Homo sapiens: one gene and its partner. The main gene of each other region encodes a partner of the protein of the gene in region 2 in a complex. Each region holds a gene or a part of one and is shown on either strand. Other genes may lie near its edges. The genes, in order: LAMTOR5 and FLCN.

Region 1 (4,256 bases), on a different chromosome or scaffold from region 2:
ATCACGAGGTCAGGAGATCGAGACGATCCTGGCCAACATGGCGAAACCCCATCTCTACTAAAAATACAAAAATCAGCCAGGTGTGGTGTCGTGCGCCTGTAGTCCCAGCTACTCTGGAGGCTGAGGCAGGAGAATCGCTTGAACCCAGGAGGCGGAGCTTGCAGTGAGCTGAGATCGCACCACTGCACTCCAGCCTGGCGACAGAGCAGGACTCTGTCTACTGAAAAAAACAAAACAAAACAAAACAAAAAACGAAAACGTAAAACATAGAAAACTCGTGTTACTGTTTAAGTCAGTAGGCTACTGAGGGGTCAAAAGTTACATGTAGATTTCTGACTGCACAGGGGTGGGATCCATGGACATACCTGTGAGAATGTAGGTATTTCAGGAAGCTTCTTAAACAAAAGTAATTTAGAACAAAGACCTTTTAAAAAAATTACAGTTTGATAACTGAACAAAAGGAACATTTGGTTAAGTTTAAAGAATCTAGAAAAGATCCATTTTCCTCCAAACAGATTTATTGAATACAGCAAAATTCTATATACAAAGTGACCTGGACCTGCTGCTTCAAAACATGATCCTTTCTTACTAATATCTTGATAGTCGGTCCATAGAGCATTAGAAAGCAATTGACTCTTAAATAAACAGAAAAGTGCCTAATGCACATTAAATGAATGGCCTAACTACTGGAACTTTAGTAGTTCTATAAGGTAATTAACATAGGTAGGATCCAGTTCCTATGACAGGCTGCTGAAGAACAGATATGAGCATCAAGAGGCCATTTTGTGCACTGCCACCGTGATGCCATCGTGTTTCTGGATCATAATGTTCCTGAAATGCAGGAAGAAAATATTCAGTAAAACGTAATCAGTGGGACTTCACTGCAAGATTAAAGATGTTGTTTGCTTTAGGATACAATATTTAAAATAATGTAATTGTTTCTACGTATAAAAGCAATATTTAAACATAACAAAACATTTGGGAAATACATAAACATATAGCATGTGAACACGAAATGAATCCTTAATCCTACTACACACAGACAACCACTGTTAATATTTCCCTGGTTCTTTGTTTCGGTTTTTTAGGCACTGTCTTGCTATGTTGCCCAAGCTGGCCTCAAACTCCTGGGCTCAAGCAATCCTGCTTCAGCCACCTCAGTAGCTGGAACTACAAAAAAAAGGCTTTACTGGTCTTTGTTTTCTTTGCATGTATATGATACAGTCATGTGCTGCATAACAATGCTTCAGTCAACAGTGGACCCTACATATGATGGTGGTCCCGTAAGATTATAATGGAACTGAAAAATTCCTATTGCCTAGTGACCTTTTAACCGTCCCAGCATCACATAGCACAACACACTACTCACATGTTTGTGGTAATGCTGGTGTAAACAAATTGTGCTGCCAGTCATAAAAAGTATAGCACATACAATTATGTACAGTACGTAACGCTTGATAATAATAAATGACTATGCTATGGTTTATGTATTTACTATACTTTTTTTCTTTTTTTTGAGACGGAGTCTTGCTCTGTTGCCCAGGCTGGAGGGCAGTGGCGTGATCTCAGCTCACTGCAACCTCTGCCTCCCGGGTTCAAGCAATTCTCCTGCCTCAGCCTCCTGAGTAGCTAGGATTACAGGTGCCTGCCACCATGCCTAATTTTTGTATTTTTAGTAGAGACAGGGTTTCACCATGTTGGTTAGGCTGTCTCACACTCCTTACCTCAAGTGATCTGCCCGCCTTGGCCTCCCAAAGTGCTGGGATTACAAGTGTGAGCCACCATGCCGGGCCTACTTTTTATCATTATTTTAGAGTATACTACTCCTACTTATTAAGACAAGGTTAACTATAAAACAGCCTCAGACAGGTCCTTTAGGAGGTATTCCAGAAGGTATCATCATTACAGGAGATGACAACTCCATGCATGTTACTGCCCTGGATGACCTTCCAGTGGGAGAAGATGTGGAGATAGAAGCCAGTGATATTGATGATCCTGACCCTGTGCAGGCCTAGGCTAATGTGTGTTTCTTCTTTGCTTTTAACAAAAAAGTCTAAAAAGTAAAAAAGTTTAAAAAAAGAATTTTTGTACAGCTGTACAACTGTTTTAAGTGTTATTATAAAGTCAAAAAGTTTTATTGACTCACTCAGAGCAACTTCCAGTGTTGTAAGCTCCATTATGGTAAGTGCCCTATTCAGATATACCTTTTAAAAAATTTCCCTATACCATACTTTTACTGTATCTTCTCTACGTTTAGATACATAAATACCACTGTTATAACTGCCTACATTATTTAGGCTACAAATCTTTGTAGTCTAAGAGCAATACAGCCTAGGTGTGTAATAGGGTGTACCACCTAGGTTTAAGTACACTCTATGATGTTCATACAACAAAACTGCCTGACACATTTCTCAGAACATATCCCCATTGTTAAGCAATGCATGACTGTATGTTTTTTCTTTTTACAAGGCTGTGATAGTAGCAGTTGTATATATATACTTTTTTTCACATATTATTCTGAGGACCATCACTTGGAATATCTTTAGTAATTTTATTGCTTTAGAAGTAATTTTTGGCTGGGTGCAGTGACTCATTCCTGTAATCCCAGCACTTTGGGAGGCTGAGGCGGGCAAATTACTGGAGCCCAGGAGTTCGAGACCAGCCTGGGAAACATGGTGAAACCTCATCTCTACAAAAAAATACAAAAATTAGCTGGGTGTGGTAGTGTACACCTGTAGTCTCAGCTACAACTCGGGAGGCTGAGTTGGGTGAATCGCTTGAGCCCGGTGGGGTTGAAGTCACAGTGACCCATGATCACACCACTGTACTCCAGCCTGGTGCCAGAGCAACACCCTGCCTCAAAAAGAAAAAAAAAAAAAGTAATTTTTATTCTCTGATTAGTTTTCCTTTGTGCTATTTGTTACTTTCTTTTTGTTGGTAAACTGATAGCTTCTGCCAATTCTTATTCTTCATTTAAATAGCATTGTGGCCTGAGAGCACATTAGCTTTAGGGATCAACTTGTCTGTTCCTGTGATTCAAAAGATTAAGAACTTTTCCCAAAGTAGTCTGAATAAGGAATCACTGATGAACACAGGGCCGGCCCCCGCCAATTTTACCAGGAATTTTTCTGAACAAAAAGGAAAGGATCTGCTGAAATCTACTCACCCATTATCTGATTCTAGACACACCACAGGAATATCAGTGGGGTCAGAGGTTAGCTTAGCTGCTTGCTGGGCTAGAACAGATATCACTCCAGCATGCTCATCTGACAGGGTCCCGCGGCCTGGAAAATAGAGATGATATATGTCACCTGATTGCTCATAGAGTATTTCTGCTAAAATAAGCTAGCTGGCTGTTTTAAAATGTCTACAGAATTGTCTTTTTATTAATGTCTGTATTAGTCTGTATATATTATAGTAACTAAATCTCGGGTACAAAAGTACCTATAAATTCTAGGTACGAAAATTAATTACTAAGTGTACTTTACAATATATTTCTGTATATAAAGGCAACACAAAGTTAACTGTACCTGAAACCAAATCAGGTAATAGACATGCCACTATGGCAGAGCATTTGGATGTACTATTACTATACAAAACATTTTGACCAGATCCGATGCCGACGTTTGAGCCTTGAAGGTTTCTTGAAGGAACTCATTTAGTTTTAGATTTCCATACCTGAATTTCAGTCTTTCCATTAGTAAGCCTAGCAAATGCTTCCAAAAATTTACCCTTTTTCTCCCAAATGACTGATCTGCATGTTAAACATAACTGAGTTACACCGATTACCTCTTTCAGTTACCCTTCCAGCAAAAATTCAGAGCTTTAAACATTCCTGCATTAGGAGCAACAAGTCTTGGGTTTACTAGTTGTCACTAATTAACTGAATGCTTTACTTATTTACCTTTCCAAACTTATTTCCTCATGTGTAATTGCTACCATTTATTAAGTATTATGTCTCAGTTCTATGTAAGCATTTTATACATATTATATAACCTTAAAATATCGTGATTAGGCCGGGTGTAGTGGCTCATTCCTGTAATCCCGCACTTTGGGAGGCGGAGGTGGGTGGATCACCTGAGATAAGGAGTTCGAGACCAGCCTGGCCAACATAGTGAAACCCTGTATCTACTAAAAATACAAAAATTATCTGGGCGTGGTGGCAGGCGCCTGTAATCCCAGCTACTCAGGAGGCTGAGGCAGGAGAATTGCCTGAACCTGGGAAATGGAGGTTGCAGTGAGCCAAGATCGTGCCA
Region 2 (3,814 bases):
TTGGGACTACAAGCGTGCGCCACCACTCCAGGCTACTTTTTTTTTTTTTTTTTTGAGATGGAGTCTCGCCCTGTCATAAAGGCTGGAGTGCAGTGACCTAGTCTTGGCTCACTGCAACCTCCGCCTCCCAGGTTCAAGTGATTCTCCTCCCTCAGCCTCCCAAGTAGCTGGGTTTATAGGTGACCGCCAACACGCCCAGCTAAGGTTTTTGTTTTATTTTGTTTTGTTTTTGTTGTTTTTGGTTTTTTTTGAGACTGAGTCTCACTTTGTTGCCCAGGCTCGAGTGCCGTGGTGCGATCTCGGCTCACTGCAACCTTGCCTCCCAGGTTCAAGTGATTCTCGTGCCTCAGCCTCCTGAGTAGCTGGGACTACCAGCGCACACCACCACACCTGGCTAATCTTTGTATTCTTAGTAGAGGCAGGGTTTCACTGCGTCGGCCAGGCTGGTCTCAAACTCCTGACCTCAAGTGATCCACCCGCCTCAGCCTCCCAAAGTGTTGGGATTACAGGCTCATGGGATTACAGGCATGAGCCACTGTGCCGGCCTCTCCTAGCTAATTTAAATTTTAAATTTAAGTTGTCACACATAGCTGTGGCCACCGTATGGACAATGTGGGTCTGGCTGCATGTGTCAGGCTGTGTCACATGTCAGGCTGTTGGCTGTGGCTGTCCCCACTGTGCACCTTTGCTTTTGCGGTCTCGTTTCCAGAACTTCTCTGCCAGTGAGAACCCCATGACACACCCCCATTTTAAAGCCTTCTCTGGCTTTCCTGCATTCGTTAGGAAGGCATACTGCCTCATGCTGCCGCGGCCATCCCTCTGCAATGAGTGCTTGGTGTCCCTCAGACTTTGTGCCTGCAGCTGCCCCTGGCCTTCACATGGTTCCGCCGGCATCGCAGCTGTACTGTGGCCAAGCTTGGGGCTTTCCTTGACTCCATGTCCCCACCAGGTGTCCCATTGCTGGCTCTGCCACGGAAACTCTCCAAAGGGCTCTCTCTACCCACTCCTGTGAGCTTTTTCTCCACCGGAAACTGTGTTAAGGTCACCTTTGACTTCATCATTGTTCTGCAGGTTACCACTCCCCCTTTTAAAAAGATTGTGGTGAAATAATACATGACCTAAAATGCGCCATTTGAACCACTGTTCGGCGTGCAGTGCCGTGGCATGAAGTATGTTCACAGTGCTGTGCGGCCATCGCCACCTTCCGTCTCCAGAACTGAGCCCCGCTCTTCCCTCCCAGTCCCCGGCAGCTGCCATTCTGCTCTCTGTCTCTATGGCTTTGAGGACTCTAGGTACCTCCTATTTAAGTGGAATCCTACAGTGTTTATCCGTTTGTGACCAGTGTAGATCATTTCGTGTAATGTCCTTCAGTTTCAGCCGTGCCGTAGCTTGTGGCAGGGTTTCCTTCCTTTTTAAGGCCATGTGACATTCCAGTCCCACCTTGCTAAAGCAGTTTACCTGGTCACTGGGGTGACTCTGGAGCTCCCCTCTGGCCTCACTGCCTGTGCTTGGTCATGTTGGCTAGCTGTCCTCCCTTCTCCACCTCTGAGTCTACAAGGGCTGCACTCCACGGAGGTCCCATGCGTCAGCCCCGACCGCAGCGCTTGGCTCTGCTGCTGTGTCCCGTCCCCGTGAAGGCTCAGCAGGCACTCACTGGGCCTTCTCCCCTGCTCACTGCTCCGCACTCTGCACCCCACCCGCACTGTGCGTCTTCACCCTGCCTGGCCTGGGCCACTGTCCCTTCCTGCTCAGATCAGTCAGCAGGGTGCCTCAGCTTGTTCCCCACCTCCACCCTGGCCCCCTGCCATCTTTTCTGCACATGGGCATGAGTGAACCTATTCAAGTGAAATTCACATTTTCTCATGTCTCATCAGAACCCCCAAAGCCTCCCCAGTCTCTGATAACACATCCAGGGTCTTTCGGTGGCCTGGAGGAGCTATAAGATCTGCTTCCTACAGCCTCCACCCTGTCTGCTGCTGCTCTTTGGACACCGGACCTTACACACCCCTCAGACAGTACAGCACCCACCCTGCCCTTCAACTCTTGCTTGGCCCCGTAAGCCAGTCCTTCCAGGCTCCTGCCTCCTCTGGTCATTCCCTGCGTGGGCCTCTCGCAGGAAGCAGTTTTCCTGTGTCCCCCGCCGACCCCCTGCAGGAGGTAAGCTGCATGAGGGCAGTATCATGTTGCCTAGCACCTTGGCCCACATGGAGCAGGTGCCAAGCAGATATGTATTGGGTGGAGGACCCTCTCCCTGTGGCCTTTTATCTATTTGTTCTCACAGGGTTTGCCAGGTTTGGCTGCAGTTCATGTCACTTGAGGACATTCCTTTCCAGCGCCGTTGGCTTTGTGGCTGTGGCTCTGTCACAGCTCCAGCTGTGCTATCATTGGTCCACATTGTCCCCTCCCCTATTTGCTGTGACTCCCATGGGAAGATCCTATCTCTGTTCCTCTCGCACTGGGGCAAAGCAGTGCTGGCAGGGGGCTGGGGAACTGGCGGGTGGCCTCTCCTGGGCAGGAAGTCCATGGCACCCAGGTGCTCCCTGTGCTCCAGAGGGGCTGGGGAGGTTTCATGGAGTCAATAGGCATTGGCAAGCTGACATGTCCCCTGTCCCACGCAGGCCTGTTGCAGTCTCCAAGGCACCATGAATGCCATCGTGGCTCTCTGCCACTTCTGCGAGCTCCACGGCCCCCGCACTCTCTTCTGCACGGAGGTGCTGCACGCCCCACTTCCTCAAGGGGATGGGAATGAGGACAGTCCTGGCCAGGGTGAGCAGGCGGAAGAAGAGGAAGGTGGCATTCAGATGAACAGTCGGATGCGTGCGCACAGCCCCGCAGAGGGGGCCAGCGTCGAGTCCAGCAGCCCGGGGCCCAAAAAGTCGGACATGTGCGAGGCAAGTGTCTTTGGGGTCTTGGTTTTGTGATCCCTGCAGTAGGTGTGGGATGGACAGGAGGACCTGAGAGCAGTGGACGGGGCCTCCCGGGGTGACACAGACTGCTTCTCAGGGGCCCTTCAGTTCTTTCCGCTCATCCTGACTGTAGCTTTTGTTTTGTTTTGTTTTGTTTTTTTTGAGACAGAGTTTTGCTCTTATTGCCCAGGCTGGAGTGCCATGGTGTGATCATGGCTCACTGCAACCTCTGCCTCCCGGGTTCAAGCAATTCTCCTGCCTCAGCCTCCCGAATAACGAATTACACTTGCCTGCCACCACGCCTGGCTAATTTTGTATTTTTAGTAGAGATGGGGTTTCACCATGTTGGGCAGGCTGGTCTTGAACTCGTGACCTCAGGTGATCCACCTGCCTCGGCCTCCCAAAGTGCTGAGATTACAGGCGTGAGCCACCACACCCAGCCTATGTTAACTTCTTTAACCCACTCTGCCTCCCTGCCGTGGCCTTCATGTTTGTATTCACACACTCCAGCCTGTCCTGGAGGCGGGTCCCCAAAGTCCCGTGCTCCCAGTGGAGTTTCCTGCTCCCAGGACCCCCAGTGTTCTCGGTGGGTCACTCCATCAGCTCTTGAACTCTCGGGAATTAGTGTGAGTTTTCCCCAGTGGGCCACTTGTTTTTGTGGAGGACCTGGGTCAGGGCCCAAAATCAGGGGTGGGTGTTGGACCTGCCACTGCAGTGCAAACGGGAACCCAAGCTTGTTCTTTTGGTTCTGCTGCAGAAGCAGAGGACGTGTAAGAGCTGCATCCATTGCTGGAATTGCCTGTAAGGAATGGGGGATGGGGAGCACCTCAGACCTGGGAAGGAGGGCACCGCCAGGCTGCTGGGGCATCCTTGAGCTGGTTTTGGGGTTGCCCATGGAGGAATCCTGC

What was found.
Region 1: FLCN (region 2) and LAMTOR5 share a complex: the UniProt entries of both Homo sapiens proteins name them as parts of the lysosomal folliculin complex.

The regions. Positions count from the first base shown.
Region 1 is NC_000001.11:110,400,753-110,405,008, forward strand, and holds the end of LAMTOR5 (ragulator complex protein LAMTOR5), read right to left. Parts: intron 3,285-4,256; coding exon 3,167-3,284; intron 832-3,166; coding exon 771-831; 3' UTR 501-770; downstream 1-500. UniProt on the Homo sapiens protein: As part of the Ragulator complex it is involved in amino acid sensing and activation of mTORC1, a signaling complex promoting cell growth in response to growth factors, energy levels, and amino acids.
Region 2 is NC_000017.11:17,226,966-17,230,779, reverse strand, and holds part of FLCN (folliculin), read left to right. Parts: intron 1-949; exon of another isoform or gene 950-2,618; 5' UTR 2,619-2,642; coding exon 2,643-2,891; intron 2,892-3,814. UniProt on the Homo sapiens protein: Multi-functional protein, involved in both the cellular response to amino acid availability and in the regulation of glycolysis.